2 separate regions of the Homo sapiens genome follow, and region 1 is linked to region 2. The links come from fine-mapping of genetic effects on gene expression. A gene starts in region 2. The other region holds a variant in brackets. All regions are shown on one strand. Distances are between the middles of the regions. Region 1 holds the start of MIR4284 (microRNA 4284). Region 2 holds the start of DNAJC30 (DnaJ heat shock protein family (Hsp40) member C30).

Region 1 (8,939 bases), 31 kb after region 2:
CCTATAAGGGGAGACCTGCCTACTGTGTCCCAGCCCTGGGCACCACTAAACCCCAGTCCCGAGGTGGCACGGATCAGATCTCTTAGGAATCTCCTGTGAGTCTTTTTTTAAAACAGTTTTTAAATTTAATTTTTATTTTTGTAGAGACGGGGGTCTCACTGTGTTACCCAGGCTGGTCTTGAACTCCTGGCCTCAAGCGATCCTCCTGCCTCAGCCTTCCAAAGCACTGGGATTGTAGGTGTGAGCCACTGCACTTGGCCTCCCTGTCGGTCTTGCCATTGGACCTCGGTCTGCCTCCTTCCAGTCCCCAGACCTGGGCCCAGCAGGCACAAGGGGACAGTCATGTTGCCACTTGGCTTGGGTCCTGCCTTAGGCCTCAGCCACAGTTACAAGCCCCACTCCACTGTCCCAGGACCAGCTGTACAAAAGCCACCCCCATCGTGGGGCAGGGGTAATCATACTTCTGACTTCCCAGCATGCTGCGCACAATTATTACTGTCTGCCTCATACCGCCAGTTGGCCAGGGTCAGCCCACGCTGCTGGCAAGGCCAGGTCTCTCTCTGCAGCCAAGGCAAGGATATCCGGGGTGGCCACCCTGGGGCAGGGACTGAGGTCTCTCAGCCTGGGGCTCAGGGCTTGTTCCCACCTCTTTTATTTTTATTTTTTTATTTTTTGAGAGAGTCTCGCACTGTCACCTAGGCTGGAGTGCAGTGGTGTGATCTTGGCTCACTGCAACCTCCACCTCCTGGGTTCAAGCAATTCTCCTGCCTCAGCCTCCCGAGTAGCTGGGATTACAGGTGCATGCCACCATGCCCAGCTAATTTTTGTATTTTTAGTAGAGACAGGTTTCACTATGTTGGCCAGGCCGGTCTCGAACTCCTGACCTCAGGTGATCCACCCGCCTCGGCCTCCCAAAGTACTGGGATTACAGGCGTGAACCACCACATCTGATCTTGTTCCCACCTCATTTCTGAGTGCCTCACGGGAGTGGCCACTGACTAGCTCAGCACTGACCCCACCTCGGTGCTCTCGCGTCAGGACGGAGGCAGGTGGAGGTTGAGGGGCTGAGAGAACTGATGGGACTCATCAGGCTGGGCCTTAACCCCTCTGGCTCTATTTACTCTTCTGTGAAATGGGGACAGTGACACCTGGCTGCATGGAGGGAGGGCTGAGAAAAAGTGGGGAAGCAGGGCAGGTATGTTTGTTTGATTGATGGATGGACTGATTGATTGATTGAGACAGGGTCTCGCTCTGTCACCCAGGCTGGAGTGCAGTGGCACAATCATAACTCCCTGTAGCCTCAACCTCCCGGGCTCAAGCCATCCTTTCACTTCAGCCTCCCAAGCAGCTGGGACTACAGATGCATCAGATGCATGCCACCACACCCAGCTACTTTTTGATTTTTTTTTTTTTTTTGTAGCGACAGGGTCAAACTATGTTGCCCAGTCTGGTCTCAAACTCTTGGGCTCAAGTGATCTTCCCACCTTGGCTTCCCAAAGTGCTGGGAGTATAGGTGTGAGCCGCCACCATGCCCGGCCTGAGCATGTTCTGTGAGGGGCTCACATCACCCCATCAAAGTGGGGACTCATGGGGAGAGGGGGTAGTTAGGAGCTTTGATAGAGGCGGCTCAGAGGGGCCTCCTCTCTTTAAGATATCGTACCACCTCCCCAGCAGCTAAAATAAATCCTCGTTCCCACTCCCCACCGAGTGCCTGGGGCTGTCACCAGGTGGTACCCCCTCCCCCACCAAGCTCCCTACAGACACAGAAAATCCAGGAGCCGTTTTCACGCTTTTAGACCGTGACAGGCCTAGGAGTTGAGTCAGAGGAGCCCTCCCTAGGGAAACTGAGGCAGAGCACTGCCAGGAGGAGCCCAGTTCCTCCTCCTGGGCAGGCTGCCAGGTTGGGAAGTGGCCCCAGGAGCTCCTGCCATTCAGTGTCCTGCCCTCTCTGCCCTGGTGCTCAGAGGATCAGGGTAGATGACAAAGGGTGGATGGAGAATTATCCAGCTCCTTTTCCGTGGCCAGAGACGAGCGTCACTGCCAGCCCCACCGAACCCCTGTCCTGCCCTCAGAGACCCCTGGCACCTGTCTGGTGCCTCTCTTGACCTCAGCTTGCCCATCTGTGTAATGAGGGCAGATCTTCTCCAGGCATCCGGCCAGCTCTGACCTGCTACCTTCCCAGAAGGCTGAAGGCTGGACCAGGAAGCTTCTCTAACAGAAGGGCTGGGAGGAGAGATGCCCGCATCCTCCTCTGGACCCTCCGTCTATGAGGGTAGGGCTGGGGAAAGGGAGATCAGGGCCAGGGTAGATGGGGGCACGCAGGTCAAGTCTACCCTGGAGGTGGCATTGAGATTGGCCCCAAAGCCAGTCGGGGGGCTGAGGGCCTGACCTCTGAGGCATGGTCAAACCAGCCACAGCTCCAAGCAAAACCTAGAGGGGATGGGCGAAGTGGGCCTTTCCTCCCCACGTCCTTCTACTTCTTCGTTCTTGGGAATTTTCACCCCCAGCTCTGCTCTTTATCCTGCTGCCCTCCCCTGGGATCAGACCCCACTCCCCCACACCTACAACTGGTTCCTGGCCCTACAATCCACCCTCTGCCCCCAACTTCCCCCAGGCACATCCCTTTGCCCGGGATGCTGATTCCATGAAGGTGACATTCCCTTCTTCCTCGATGCCACCTCCTTCCAGAAGCCTCCCTGCCCCCCCAAATCAGTATCTCGCACCTTGTTCTTCCACACGCCATTCACATTCCTATTGGAGCCATGGCTGAAAACTCTCAGGCCCTAAGGGACCTGAAAAGTCCCCCTGGCTTCAGCTGCCAGCCTCAGCTTGCAAACCTCCTGTGACAGTGAGCTCACTAGCTTCCCCAGACAGCTCTGCCCATCTCGGGCAGCCCCAACTGTTAGAGTCCTTCTCTTCCCTGTGGTTTGGTTCCAGGCCATAAAGAACCTGTGGGTGCCCTCTCCCTGGGGTACCCCTGCTATAGATTTGAAGGCGGCATCCACATCCTCCCTAGATTTTTCTTTTTAAGTATTCCTTCCCTTTCAGATCCTTCCCAGGGACCCCAAATTACAGCCCCTGCCCAAGAGTTGTTCCACTGTGCCTCTGTCTCCTGTCATACAGCACACAAACTGAATCTGCTGCTGACTGTGGTCTGGGCAATGCCAAAGATCTGGCCCATCCCCTCCCTCTTTCTATATGATCTACCTCTAGTAATACAGCCAGGAATCAGATAAGTGATCATGTAGCATTTCCTGTCAAGAAAAGCCCCAAGCCCTTCCCAACCACTGTCTGTGGAGTGGATTTGGGGTTCGAGTGAAGGACCTTCTTCCTGTTTCATTTCTTCATTTGTTCTGATGCTTATTTCAGTTTGTGGGATTCTGATGGCTCCTGGCTCTGTCGCCCCTGCACCCTCATCCACATCCAAGCTAGAGCCTGGTGGCAGCATTCTAGAGATGTCCTCCAGATTCACTCAGATAAGGAATCAGTTCTCATTGGACACGGAATAAACTGATAAGGACGCGGGATGGCAGAGCCCCACTGCCACCCTCACCTCCTCTGTTTCCCAGCCCAGACACACTCTTGACCAAAATGTAACTAGGTGATGTGGCTACCCTGGCATGCTGTCTTCCTGGTGTCTTGGGCTGGCCAGGGCGGGCACTGTATACATAAAGTGGCCAAGCATGATGGCTCACGCCGGTAATCTCAGCACTTTGGGAGGCCAAGGTGGGAGGATTACTTGAGTCCAGGAGTTTGAGACCAGCCAGGGCAACATAGCAAGACCCCATCTCTATCAAAAGCTACAAAAATTAGCTGGGCGTGGTGCCATGCATCTGTAATTGCAGCTACTCAGGAGGCTGAGGTGGGAGGATTGCTTGAGCCCTGGAGGTCGAGGCTGCAGTGAGCTATGATCGTGCCATTGCACTCCAGCTTAGGTGACAGAGCAAGATCCTGTCTCAAAAAAACAAAAGTGGACACACAGATTTCTGTGGAATAATTAGGGCCCAGCTCCCTTGGGGATCTACCAATGCTTTCTGAGTGGCATTCACAGCTCTGGAGAGGGGGCTGGATTGGAGTTGGGGACTTGGAACCCTTCGCTGTGCAGGTGGCAGCTGGAACTGTGGGGCACAAACTCAAAGGCCCAAGTGTCTTACGGACGGATGTGCCCAGATATCATACGGGCACCTTGCCTGCCTCCTGGCCAAAACCAGGCTCCACCTGTTTTGCCAGAGCCCCATCCTCTGAACTGCCTAGCGCAGAACCCCAAGCCAGAAACCTAGGACATCTGCCATCTTCCTCCTCTTCTCCCATCCAACCAACATCCA[A/G]TTTGTCCTGGCACTTTTTTTTTTTTTTTTGAGGCAGAGTCTCGCTCTGTTGCCCAGGCTGGAGCGCAGTGGCGCAATCTCGGCTCACCACAACCTCCGCCTCCCAGGTTCAAGCGATTCTCCTGCCTCAGCCTCCCGAGTAGCTGGGATTACAGGCACCCGCACCACACCCGGCTAGTTTTTGTATTTTTAGTAGAGACGGGGTTTCACCATGTTGGCCAGGCTGGTCTTGAATTCCTGACCTCAGGTGATCCACCCGCCTCGGTCTCCCAAAGTGCTAGGATTACAGGCGTAAGCCACCGCGCCCAGCTCTTTTTTTTTTGAAACAGAATCTCGCTTTGTTGTCCAGACTGGAGTGCAGTGGCAAGATCATAGCTCACTGCAGCCTTGATCTCCCAGGCTCAAGCAATCCTCCAGCCTCAGCCTCCAGAGTAGCTGGGACTACAGGTGCCTGCCACCACACCTGGCTAATTTTAAATTTGTGTAGAGATGGTGGTCTCACTATGTTGCTCAGGCTGGTCTCAAACTCCTGAGCTCAAGCAGTCTTCCCGCCTCAGCCTCCCAAGTAGTTGGTACTGCAGGTGTGAGCCCCCAAGCCCAGCTAACATCCTGGTGTTTTTTTGTTCTGCATTCAGCAGTTCTCAAAGCTGGGCGAGCACCAGAATCCTTTGGGGGGGTTAAAAAAAAAAAACAAAAACGGCTTCCAGGGATCCACCCCAAAGAGACTGAATCAGAATTTATAGGGGTAGCCGGGTGCAGTGGCTCATGCCTTAATCCCAGCACTTCGGGAGGCCAAGGTGGGTGGATCACCTGAGGTTAGCAGTTCAAGAACAGCCTGGTCAACATGGCAAAACCCCATCTCTACTAAAAATACAAAAATTAGCCGGGTGTGATGGTGCATGCCTGTAATCCCAGCTACTCGGTAGGATGAGGCAGGAGAATCACTTGAACCTGGGAGGTGGAGGTTGCAGTGAGCCAAGATTATGCCACTGCACTCCAGCCTGGATGACAGAATGAGACTCCGTCTAAAAAAAAAAAAAAAATTGGCTGGGTGTGGTGGCTTACACCTGTAATCCCAGCACTTTGGGAGGCCGAGGCGGGCAGATCACGAGGTCAAGAGATCGAGGCCATCCTGCCCAACATGGTGAAACCCCGTTGCTACTAAAAATACAAAAATTAGCCGGGCATGGTGATGCACACCTGTAGTCTCAGCTACTCAGGAGGCTGAGGAAGGAGAATCACTTGAACCCAGGAGGTGGAGGCTGCAGTGAGCTGAGATGGCACCATTGCACTCCAGCCTGGAGACAGTGCGAGACTCCGTCTAAAAAAACAAAAAAAAAACCAACAAAAAACACCACCTCCAACCAGGAAGGCTGGGAGGGAGTGCTCCTTACCTCCCTAGCATGGAGACTGCTAGGAAGAACAGACCCTGCTGGAACCACGGGGAGCTGGATGCCCTGAGCTTCCCCTGGCAGAGGTGGGGCAGCCCTGGTGGTCTCTCCTAGCAGAGACTCCAGGATTCCAGGACACCTTCCTGGATGTAATAGTCTGACTCCTCCAAGAGGCGCAGAGGCCAGGCAGCCTCCAGGCGTGTCCCAGGGGAAGCCACCAGGCTGGCAAGGTTGATTCATCACTGCTGAGCACAGTGGCTGTTGTCTGCCTCGAGGGCTATTTTTTTCCCTTCTTCTTTTAAATGACTAATCAAAGTCAATATCACTAGTGCAGAGAGGCCCGGAGCTGAGTCAGGGGTGTGCGAGAGGCCAAGCTGGGTCTCCAGGAAAGACGGCTGTGCAATCTGAGCCTCCTCACCCTGTCTCCAGCCTCCAGCTGTGTGTACACCAGGTCCCCGCCCTGCAGAGCCTGCCCCTTCACAGGGCCCCAGAGTGGCTCAGGGAGGCAGCTTCAGGCCGTGGAAGGGGCCAGGCTCTGCCCCCACAGGCTGCATGACCTCAGATAAACACCTGGCCCTTTCTGGACCTGTTTTCTGATCTGTAAGATAGGAGGTTGAACTAGATGGTCCCGGGAGGCCGTTCCACCTGCACCCCAGATGAAAATGTACCCAAATGCATCGTTCATGCTGGGAAACCTCTGGAACGTAATGGGAGGAAGGATCGGGCGAGCCCTGTCCGGCTCCTGTTCTTACACTCTCGTGCCTGCCACTCTGCAAAGTAGGTAACACTGGCTCCATTCTGCAGATGAGGAAATGAGCAGAGGGAGATTAAGGATGAACCTGCCCGGTGTTGCCACCCAACCGCCAGACTCTTCCCAGCAACGAAAGAGAAGGGGAAACTGATGGGCAAAGCAGGGCCCTGGGCCTTCCCATCCAGGCCTGCCTGGGCTGCTCCAGTGAGTTGGGCCCTAGTCTAGACCTCAAGGCACTTCAGGGGGCCCCAGACACCAGCTGTCAGGACCACCTGCTATTCTCTCCTGGTTGAGCATTCCAATCTCTCTGCCTTCACTAAGCTGTCCCCTCCTTTGGATCACCTTCTCTCCTCCTATTCAAATCCAGCTCCTGCTCCTGTGCTATCCCAGGGTCTCTTCTTCCAGGAAGCCTTCCAGGATTGTGCTGCTCCAACTCTCCCTCCTTGCTACGTCTTCAGCCTCCTGCAACAGGTCCCATGTGTCTGTCCCACATGACCTGGCACATAGACAAATACATGTTCTGGGCCCAGGGAGAAAGGTCAGCTCTGCAAAGTCCCCAGGAAGAAAATCAGGGAGTCTCTGAGTTGAGGGGAGGAGGCAGCTACAGCCTGAGTGGGGCTCCTGGGGATGCTCTAACCTAAAAGTCTTTCCCTGGCTGTGTGACCCTGGCCCTGTCTTCGGTCTCTCTTTGTTACCTGTAACCTGCAAGTGGCCTTTCTGATCTCTGAGGGACTGCGACAGCATTGAGGCCCCCTGGCTAGTCCCCAGTGACCCCCTTCACTCCCCATCTGCAGAGGGAGAGTTGGGAGCTGGAGAAGGCTGGAGAAGGCTGGAGGGCTGGGCCGGGCCTGCAGAGTGAGGAAACGCGCCAGCTCCTTCCCCAAGTGTGACTTTTATAAATAAGCTCTCTTCGCCTCCTTCCAAATGTGGTGGTGTTGGGTGGGGGAGAAGGAGAAAGAAGAGGGAGGAGGAGGAGGAAGAGGGAGGGAGGGAGGGCTGGGAGCGGTGCACAGCCGCTGTCCCCAGCACCATCTCTGTTCAGCCCAGCCCAGCCCAGCCCGCCCCAGTCCAGCCCAGTCCAGCCCAGTCCAGCTCAGCCAGTGCTGGCCTCTTCCTTTCTGGGGATTCTGGGCTGAAAATTCTGACTCCTGGGGCTTCAGGCCTCCTACAAATGTGGAGCTGGAGTCAGGAGACCTGTAGCCCTGCTTCTCGTCCCGAGAAACTGAATTCTAGGCTTTCCCATCCCCACTTCACAGATGGGAACCCTAGGTCCAGAGGGAAAGCAGCCTGTGGGAACAGTGGCCCCACCAAGACTGACTGTCTCACCCCACCCCGGGTGGGCTCCTGCCTGCCAGCCGTCCACCTGTCTGCTAGAAAGCCCTCCCTGGGCAGGGCCACCCAGCAATGGGTACAGCCTCCCTGGGCTCTGAATGCCTTGTGTGGGGAGGGTGGGGGTGTCTGGAGCGGAAGCCTCAGACCATTCAAAGCAAAGCCTGGCTTCACCATCTAATCAGGGGGCGAGGAGGTAGTAACAGAGACAGACATCAGAGCAAAAAGATCTGGGTTCAAACGCTTCACAACCCCAGCTCCACTGGCTGTCCCCCAGTGTCAGCCAGGCCTGAGTCTGACTATCTTCAGGGATGAGGCAAAGCCCTTTTCTACCACCCCTCCCTCTAGCAGGCAAGCCGTGTTTCTTTTGTGCCTCAGTTTCCCCTTCAGCTAGGGGGATGAAGGCTGACATGCCAGAGGCTATTATCCTATGTAGGGGCCCATGGTTCCCCTGACCACTTGGTTCCCACACACACCCTCAGGTAACCTACCAGGCGCCTAAACATCAGCACATTACACCACACAGCCATCCGTCACCAGGAAAACACTCATTCTGACTCAACGGAGCTCAGGAAACTTGAGGGCAACCACAGGGGCCGCGGGGGAAGTGTTTAGAGCCCATATGCGACTTGAGGGACCATCTTCTTCCTTTGAAACCTCATGGGGTTTACACCAGGGGCTGGGCGCTCGGCCAGGAATAACAGGTCTGGAGGCAAAGTGGAGGCCGTGGTGCCAGAGCAAGTGGGGGACATGAAGGCAGGGGAGCCCAGGTCCCGGCTCCAGGATGCCCAGGAGGCAACCATGACATAATGGGGCAGACAGGCTCCAACTCAGGGAGCCTCTGGGTGGAGAAGACAAGCCGTGGGGTCAAATGCCCAAAGGACACTTGACATTTTCCATAGGAGGGGACCTTAGGGTTCTAGTTCCTAGCCCAGGGAGCGGGGTGGGGGGTGCTCCCAGGGATCAGCAGGCAGGGCTGCCAGCCAGGTGGCCAGCCAGGGGACCAGATGACCAGATGAGACTCAATCTAGTCTTGAGCCTTGATCCACCCCCCCTCCCCGACACACCCAGAGAGGCTTCATTTCCGTCGCTGTCCTCCACTCCCGGTCACCATCCTCCTGGGCTCCTCATCCCTAAGGGCAG
Region 2 (8,830 bases):
GGCTGGTCTCGAACTCCTGACCTCAGGTGATCCGCCCGCCTTGGCCTCCCAAAGTGCTGGGATTACAGAGGTGAGCCACCGTACCCGGCCTGTTTTTCTTTTTAGAGATGAGGTCTTGCGTGTTGCCCAGCTGGAGTGCAGTAGCTATTCATAGGCGAGATCTTTGTACACTAGTCTTGGACTCCTGGGCTCAAGCGATCCTCCTGCCTCAGCCTCCCAAGTAACTGGGACCACAGGTGTGTGCCATTGTGCTGGGCTTTCCCTCATGATCTTCCCCATGGGCAGGTGGCAGCATGTGACTTCATCATGGCGCTGAGGAACTGAGAGGAGGCAAAGGCCAGGACAGGGCCCGCTTTTCTAGTGCACTGAATTCCAGAGTGTGGACTGAGGTAGCACCACCACTTATCAGCCGTCCCTCTCTCAGCCTGTTTGCACAGGGTCTGGCGACCTTCCAGGAAGCCCAACAGTTTGAAACACAGACCTCTTCCATTTCCAAAAAAGGGTGTGTTGGTGGCCACTCCAAGTCAATCGTGACCCAGTAGGACAGCTCTGTGGCCTAAGGTAAGCTATTCCTAATCAATTTGGCTCATACAGAGGTGCACTCAATGAATGAAATGCCGGAACCTCAGAAGGAAGAGGGAGAAAGCCTACTTCCTCAACACTGGGATCTGTAAAGGGTCATCTCACCCAGCAATAAATAAAGGGCAACAGAAGGGAAAAAGCAGTTTGGCTCAGGAGAAATAAAGTCCCATTCAAGCCCAAAGACACCACCACAATTACCTAGACCTGTGCGCCTTTGGTTCCTGTCTTGTGGCCTCTGTCTCCCCATTTAGGAACCACGCCTGTGGCTCACTCGGCCTCGTGCTATACCAGTAACCCCCTCCCCACCCCACTGAGCACAGCCTGGGCCAGGCTGGGCCCCTTTACCCTATTCTCCCATCCTAGGTCCAAACTTCTAGGGAGTTTTGTTTCAGTTTGTGAAAAAGAAAAAGGATTAAGGCTGGGCATGTCTGAGCCATCCTCCACAACCAGGAATTATGGAATAGCCCCTAGAAGGCAGGGGCTAAGGTCATGGCCGAGTTCAGCCTCCACTTGCCAGGTAGCAGCAGAGAAAGAAAAGACTCAAGCCAATCTGAGTGGGTGGGGGGAAAATGTGACCATGGGAACCTTTTGGGGGTCCTTCAAAAAGCCTCCCACACATTTTCCTTTCCATGAAGAGCACAGGCTCAGTTTCAGGGCAGGCAGGGAGTGGGGTCCCTCAGGCATTAGCTCTGGCCTACAAAACCCTGAGGCATAAAGGGATGACATTACGGAGTAGGCCTTGTGCTGAGTCAGGGGAGAGGCTTAGGATTGGATGATGGTTAGTAAACCTTATAGAATACTTTGCTTAGAGTTTCATGGAATGTCCCAGAAGTTTACCTTAGTCTGGACCCACCCCCAGTCTGAACCTTCTGGAATTTTCTATGTACCCCAGATTCGGGGGCTCACAGGGAACGTTCCTGGCTGGGATCTTGACTGAGAAAACAAACTTCAGAGGTCTATCTCAAGGAGCCCATGCTATTAGACCACTAGTGCTTTACAAACCCACATCGAAAGGAGGCCACCTGTTTCACTAGAACAAAAAGCCCTTGCCCCACTGTTTCTGTCGTGCCTGCTTTACTGGTTGAGAAGCACTAGTTTCAGAACATTTTGCTAAACTCCACTTCGTGCAGTTTGTTTTTCCAGAAAAAAGAAACTCCACTTGCTGCAGTTTTGTTTTTCCAGAAAAAAGTCTCTGTCCTGTTTTCTAAATATGAAACATAGTAACAATAAATGTTCTTTTAAAAAGTACATATCCCCTTCCCCCAAGTCCAGGCTCACTGAGCCAAACAGGTCTGAACCAGATTGGGCTCAAATCTTTTTTTTCTTTTTCTTTTTTTTTTTTTTTGAGATAGGGTCTAGCTTTGTAGCCCAGGCTGGAATGCAGTGGCAGGATCGCAGCTCACTGCAACCACGACCTCTCAGGCTCAAGCGATTCTCCCACCTTAGCCTCCTGAGTAGCTGGGACTACAGGCACTTGCCACACCCGGCTAATTTTTGTGATTTTTGTAGAGATGGGGTTTTGCCGTGTTGCCCAGGCTGGTCTCCAACTCCTGAGGTCAAGTGATCCACCCGCCTTGGGTGGATCCCAAAGTGTTGTGCCAGGCCCCAGATCTTCATTACTGCATCATATGATCACTGCAAAGCCTGGAGTAGGGGCATACCCCCAACCTCCGAGGCAAGAGACAATCAATGGTTTCCCTTTTTTTTTTTCCTTTTCAGGCTAGATTGGCACAATGATGGAATGGTTTTCAAGAGGCCAAGTAGGACCAGCTGTGGGTTTATCCCATTTTACCTAAGGATTTTACACAATACATTGAGTGCAGGAATGGCACGCAATGATTGCACTCAGTAATATACCAAACCACTCCTGGCTTTGTTTAGACCCTAGACTTGGGCCCTCATCCTTCTCGTAGACCTCTTGCGAGGATTTTCCCCTTTTACAGATTCACACTCAGTCCCGAACAGAAACACTTGAGCACCTACAATCTCACAGCCAACTCCCTGCCAACGTCCAGTGACTCACAGTTAAGAGAGCTTCAGCAGCAGCTCTGACCAAAGTGATGACCAACTACTTAACATGAATTAGAAACAGAGCAGAAAAAACACGCCTTTAGCCTGCTCTGCGTAAAGAACCAAGTCTCCACCATGAACACCAAGCCACCAACTCCCCGTCCCTCAGTAGTCCTGTGTACTCCCAAAGCCCCAAAATTTACCCCAGCCTCAAGCAGCCTTGTTTAAAAAATTAAGGAAGGGCCTGTGATAAGCACTGCAAGTTAAACAGAAACAGGGGACTTAAGTGCAGAGTTTGTCACTCTATTTCTGGGAGGGGATGGGCTGCACAGTGTGCAATGGGGCTGGCTGGTAAAGGGAGGACCAGGTGACAGCCAGCCACACTGTCTCAAGGATGAACCTGGCCCTGCTAGCATTATGCTGTAATCCCTGTGGATTAGAACTATGGATAATAGGGCCGGGAGCAGTGGCTCATGCCTGCAATCCCAGCACTTTGGGAGGCTGGACGGGCAGACAGCCTGAGGTCGGCAGTTCGAGACCTCAGTCTGGCCAGCATGGTGAAACCCCGTATCTACTAAAAATACAAAACACTAGCCAGGTGTGGTGGGAGCCTGTAATCCCAGTTACACAGGAGGCTGAGGCAGGAGAATCGCTTGAACCCGGGAGGTGGAGGTTGCAGTGAGCTAAGATCGCACCACTGCACTCCAGCCTGGGCAACAGAGCGCAAGACTCCATCTCAAAAACAAAACAAAACAAAAAACCCCCCAAAAACTATGGATAATAAAGCATGACAGACCTCAAGATGCCAAATGATTTTCTCCTCTGCTGTCATGCCTACAGAGTAACTTCTCCAAGGTCACACATTAAATATGGGCACAGGAACACTCATTCCTTATGCTCAATGACTTTTTCTCACTCCTACATGCTATCAACATAAGGAGGAGTGCCCCAGGGGGCTGACCTTAGCGGGAGGAACGACAGGCTCTCCACCGATCCCATTCTTACCCTGGACCAGGTCTCACCTGCGGCTTGGGGAAGTCACAGAAAGACAAGTTTCGTACAACCCCAGACCTTTTCTTTTGGTAGTCAACAATTGGTCACATTGCACATTTCAAGGTTACAGAGGCCCACCATACACATGCGGGGCAGGAGGAGATAAATCTTGCTTGGGGCTAAACAATAAAGCTACAGCGAGTGTTCCAGAAGTTGACCACATCTGGAAGCAAGAAGACAGACTCTGGAAGAAGCACCCTAGAGACTCCAGGAACCCCCTTCACTCCTGGGCTTTCGGGACTCTACAGCGTGGGGCCTCTTTCTCAGACATCGAAAGGCCTCCTTTTCTGGACCACAGTGGAGCGATGTGCAGGTCATCGGCTAAGCTGGGCGGGTCGGGGAGGGCAGGGGGAGTACAGTTCCTTCGGATCCCAGCAAAGGTAGACTATCAATGGCCAAGGGTTCAGAGGCAGGAAAAAAGGCCGTTTCTGGGGGGTTGGCTGGGGACACTCCCCTTCCCTTCTCTCTCCGATTAAATATAAAAGCCGATGATGATGAAGATTGAAAAGATGAGGAAAATGGCAGCCGTGTCTCGGGTATCCTCCCAGCGGAGGCCTTTCATGGACCGATACTCCTGCCGTTTGCGAAGGGCCTCCCGCCGGGCCCTCAGGCGCCGTTCCCGCTCCAGTTGTTCCCCGTAGTGGGCCTGGTAGAAGGCGTCAAAGTTGAACATCGTGCGGTTGGCGCCGGGGGAGGCCCGAGAACCGTCGTGGGTCCGAGAGGTGGGCGGCGGGGTACGCGGCGAGCCGGGGTCGGGTGCGGGCGTCCTGGAGGGCCGGACGCCAGGTCCGCGCAGGTCCTCGTCGCTGAGTAGGCCGCGATCATACTTGCGACGGAGGGTGGCACTGCCCAGCACCACGTAGGCCTGGGAGATGCGCGTGAAGCGCTCGGCGGCCTCCGCGCTCCCGGAGTTGCGGTCCGGGTGGTAGAGAAAGCACTGACGGTAGTAAGCCGCCTTGATTTGGGCCTGCGTGGCTGTGGAGGGGACGCCGAGCAGATCATACAGCGCCGTGCGCGAATACGAGCAGTCGCCCTGGGAATAAGTCCTCGCTCCTAGGCCCAGGCTGGGTGCAGAATTTTGTGGAAAGCCACGGGCCTGCAGCAACCTCCAAGGTAACAGCCGCTGCCACCATCGCCAGCGCATGGCTGCCATGTTGAATTGATTCGGCAGGCGGTGCAAGAGAAACCGGCCAATGAGAGGAGTCGGTTGGTCGCCCTGTGGCCAGTCACGTAAAGGGGGGGGCGGGGCGGTCGTGGGGGTGGAACATGCGTATTACTAAGCGGTCGCCGGGCTGATGACATAAAAACCGGGTGCCGGCAGGCGCCAGTCGCAGGTGTGCTGCTGAGGCGTGAGAATGGCGTCCCGCGGCCGGCGTCCGGAGCATGGCGGACCCCCAGAGCTGGTAAGTCCCGGGGCCCGCGGACACCCCTCTCCCCACTTCTGCGGCCACCGCGTCTGAATTATTCCTCTACATGCCATTTTCTCTTTTTCGCAGTTTTATGACGAGACAGAAGCCCGGAAATACGTTCGCAAGTGAGGGGAGCCTGAATACTGCGGGGCGTCCGGGGGTCGGGAAGCGGCAAGTTGCCCCTGTTGCTGGCGTTGCCCGGAAAGGCCGTAGAATTTGGGGGTGCGGGAAGGGAAGGACCCGGGTGGGTGCCGATTTCTGTCTCTGGTAAATCAACTTTAAGTTGCCGACCTCTCTGGGCCTCGGTACCTCAGCGTTGAGGTAGGGGTGATCGCGCTTGCTTTCCGTGGGTGGTTTTCAAAGTCGAATGTGACAATTTGTCCTAAACATGTGGTAAAAGAGGCGCTGGGCGGTGGGTACGGGCGAGGGGTCAGTCCTGGTGGGGGGAAGGAAGTAATGGCCGTAGGATGCTTATCGTGGCGCCTTGTTGCCAATAAATCTCCAAGACAGCAGTTGGTGTATTATTGTCTGAATTTCATAGAGGGTAGTTTGTATAACTACTGAGTTGTAGCCAGGTGGGAGTGGCTCACGCGTGTAATCTCAGCAATCGCAGCACTTTGGGAGGCTGAGGCGGGAGGATCGCTTGAGCTCAGGGGTTCGAGACCAGCCTGGGCAACGTAGCGAGCCCCCGTCTCCGCAAGTAATAAAAAAATTAGCCGGGTGTGGTGGCTCCCCTCTGCCTCTCCAGTAGTTGGGACCACAGGCGCGCGCCACTACGCCTGGCTTTTTTTTGTAAATTTTTGTTGCGATGGGGTCTCGCTGTGTTGCCCAAGGTGGCCCAAGCCCAGGGCTCAAGCGATCCTCCCGCCTTCGTCTCCCGAACTGTTGGGATTGCAGGCGTGAGCCAGCGCACCTCGAGTCGTTAAAAAAAAAAAAAAGGGGGGGGGATGGGGGCGGGGGGAAGCTGGCGCGGTGTCTCACGCCTGTAATCGCAACACTTTGGGAGGCTGAGGCAGACGGATCACCTGAGGTCAGGAGTTCGAGACCAGCCTGGCCAACATGGCGAAACTCCAGCTCTACTAAAAATGGAAAAAATTAGCCGGGCGCGATGGCGGGTTTCTGTAACCCCAGCTACTCGGGAGGCTGAGGCAGGAGAATAGCTTGAACCCGGGAGGGGGAGGTTGCAGTGAGCCGACATCACGGCACTGCACTCCAGCCTGGGCGACAGAGCAAGACTTTGTTTCAAAAAAAAAAAAAAAAAAAAAAAAAAAAAAAAAAAAGATACTTTGTGGTTTTTCCGTGCTCTCTCACTGAGAGACTAGCCCTATTTCAGTAAATGGTTACTGGCCGGGCGCTATGGCTCATACCAGTAATCCCAGCCCTGTGGGAGGCGGAGGTGGACGGATCACCTGAGGTCAGGAATTCCGAGACCAACCTGGCCAGCATGGTGAAATCCCGTCTCTACTGAAAATACAGATATTAGCCGGGCCTACGGGAGGCTGAGGCAGGAGAATCACTTGAACCTGAGAGGCAGAGGTTGCAGTGAGCTGCGATCGCACCACTGCACTCCAGCCTTGGCGACAGAGTGAGACCCTGACTCAATAAATAAATAAATAGCTATTGGATACTGTTTCTTTTTTTTAGGGACAGGGTCTCTCTATTGCCCAGGCTGGAGTGCCATGGCATGATCCCTGCCGACTGCAGCCTCAAGCCATCCTCCCCAGCAGCCGGAACTAGAGGCACTCGCCACCACACCGGCTGAAATAGCTTGATAATTTTTTGTGCGTGTGAGACAGGCTCTCATTCTATCGCCCAGGCCGAAGTGCTGCAGTGGCTGCAACCTCGCCTCCCGGGTAGTTGGAACTACAGGCGCGCCTCCTCGCGCCCGACTAGTTTGTGTAATTTTTTTGTGGAGAGGGAGTTTTGCTATGTTGCCCAGGGATCTGGTAAGTTGCTCACGGGATCCACCCGCCTTGGCCTCCCAAAGTACTGGGATTATAGGCGTGAGCCACCAGGCCCGGTCCTTGCTGATGACTTTTTATGTCGATTATATGTTGAAGTGATATTTTGAACATATTGAGTTAATGGAAATACGTTATTAAATATATGGGGTTAAAAATATGACTCCAGAGGCCGGGCGCGGTGGCTCACGCCTGTAATCCCAGCACTTTGGGAGGCCGAGGCTGGCGGATCACAAGGTCAGGAGATAGAGAAATCCTGGCTAACATGGTGAAACCCCGTCTCTACTGAAAATGCAAAAAAAAAAATTAGCCGGGCGTGGCGGCGGGCGCCTGTAGTCCCAGCTGCTGGGGAAGCTGAGGCAGGAGAATGGCATTAACCCGGGAGGCGGAGCTTGCAGTGAGCCGAGATCGCGCCACTGCACTCCAGCCTGGGCGACAACAGAGCAAGACTCCGTCTCAAAAAAAAAAAAAAATATGACTCCAGTTTCTTTTACCTGTTTCTTTAAGTTTCTTCTTGACTGGCTATTGGGAAGCCATGCGTGGCTCACATTCTGTTTCTCACAGACAGTGCTGCTGTAGGTTTTTGTGCATTGTTGATCCTTCTAGATGAGAGAAACTATGGAGAATAATTTTTGGAGAAAATGTTTTCAACAAGTGCTAGAGCAGCCCAGCCTAATAGAGTTGCAGATCCCAGTGGTTGTTTATTACTAGCTAAGTGATTTGCTTTTACACATCTGCTTGGCAGCTGGTGCAATGATAAGTTGTTACCACAAAATAACATGGTCCTGAATTACATGGAATTTTTGGGGTCACTTTCGAATGGTTGAATTTGTTGATCCCAACTTAGAAGGGGTCAGAAAAGAGTACCTCGGGATGATTGATCCGTTTTTTGTTTGTTTTTAACTTGGCTTTTTTTTGTTTTTTGTTTTTTGGTCTGGGGGAAGTATTCACCCAGAACTCCTTTACCATGTCCACTTGTGTTTCTGCCTTACCAGCTCACGGATGATTGATATCCAGACCAGGATGGCTGGGCGAGCATTGGAGCTTCTTTATCTGCCAGAGAATAAGCCCTGTTACCTGCTGGATATTGGGTGAGATTCTGGGGCCTGGTTCAGATTGTCTAAGGTGGTGAAGTGTCTTTGTAAACTGACCCTGAGTGTCTGGTCATGTCTTCCAGCTGTGGCACTGGGCTGAGTGGAAGTTATCTGTCAGATGAAGGGCACTATTGGGTGGGCCTGGATATCAGCCCTGCCATGCTGGGTAAGTATGTCCTGTCTGGCACCAGGGTGGATTACCCTGATGGGTGTGGAGAAGCCACAGGTATTTCTCTTTCTCTGACTGCCTTTTCTCTAATGTAGATGAGGCTGTGGACCGAGAGATAGAGGGAGACCTGCTGCTGGGGGATATGGGCCAGGGCATCCCATTCAAGCCAGGCACATTTGATGGTTGCATCAGGTGAGGGTCTTTAATTCCTGCTTTTATTTATTTAGAGACAGGGTCTCACTCTATCACTTAGGCTCTAGTGCAGTGTCTGTGATTATGGCTCACACTGCAGCCTCCACCTCCTGGGTTCAGGTGATCTGCCCACCTCAGTCTCCTGAGTAGCTGGGACTACAGGCCCACACCACCGTACCTAGCTAATTTTTTGTTTTTTTGAGATGGAGTCTTGCTCTGTCACCAGGCTGGAGTGCAGTGGTGTGATCTTGGCTCACTGCAGCCTTCGCCTCCCAGGCTCAAGCGATTCTCCTGCCTCAGCCTCCCAAGTAGCTGAGATTACAGGAGCACGCCACCACACCCAACTAATTTTTGTATTTT

What was found. PIP is the estimated chance that this variant, and not a neighbour inherited with it, causes the effect.
Region 1: its variant is fine-mapped to the expression of DNAJC30 in whole blood (INTERVAL, PIP 0.96).

Annotation. Positions count from the first base shown.
Region 1 is chr7:73,709,772-73,718,710 of GRCh38, forward strand. All of the region lies in intron 1 of STX1A (syntaxin 1A), which reads right to left. MIR4284 (microRNA 4284) reads left to right here and starts at 1,546; the gene lies at 1,546-1,626. RefSeq lists an enhancer at 5,676-6,207. The variant A/G (reference allele first, on the strand shown) is at 4,326.
Region 2 is chr7:73,678,626-73,687,455 of GRCh38, forward strand. DNAJC30 (DnaJ heat shock protein family (Hsp40) member C30) reads right to left here and starts at 4,828. Exons shown (of 1, transcript NM_032317.3): 1 at 2,293-4,828. The coding sequence starts at 4,798. The coding sequence ends at 4,118. BUD23 (BUD23 rRNA methyltransferase and ribosome maturation factor) reads left to right here and starts at 4,972. Exons shown (of 12, transcript NM_017528.5): 1 at 4,972-5,048; 2 at 5,142-5,179; 3 at 8,011-8,106; 4 at 8,193-8,275; 5 at 8,374-8,470. The coding sequence starts at 5,001. RefSeq lists enhancers at 4,250-4,339, 4,580-4,749, 5,680-6,529, 6,530-7,379.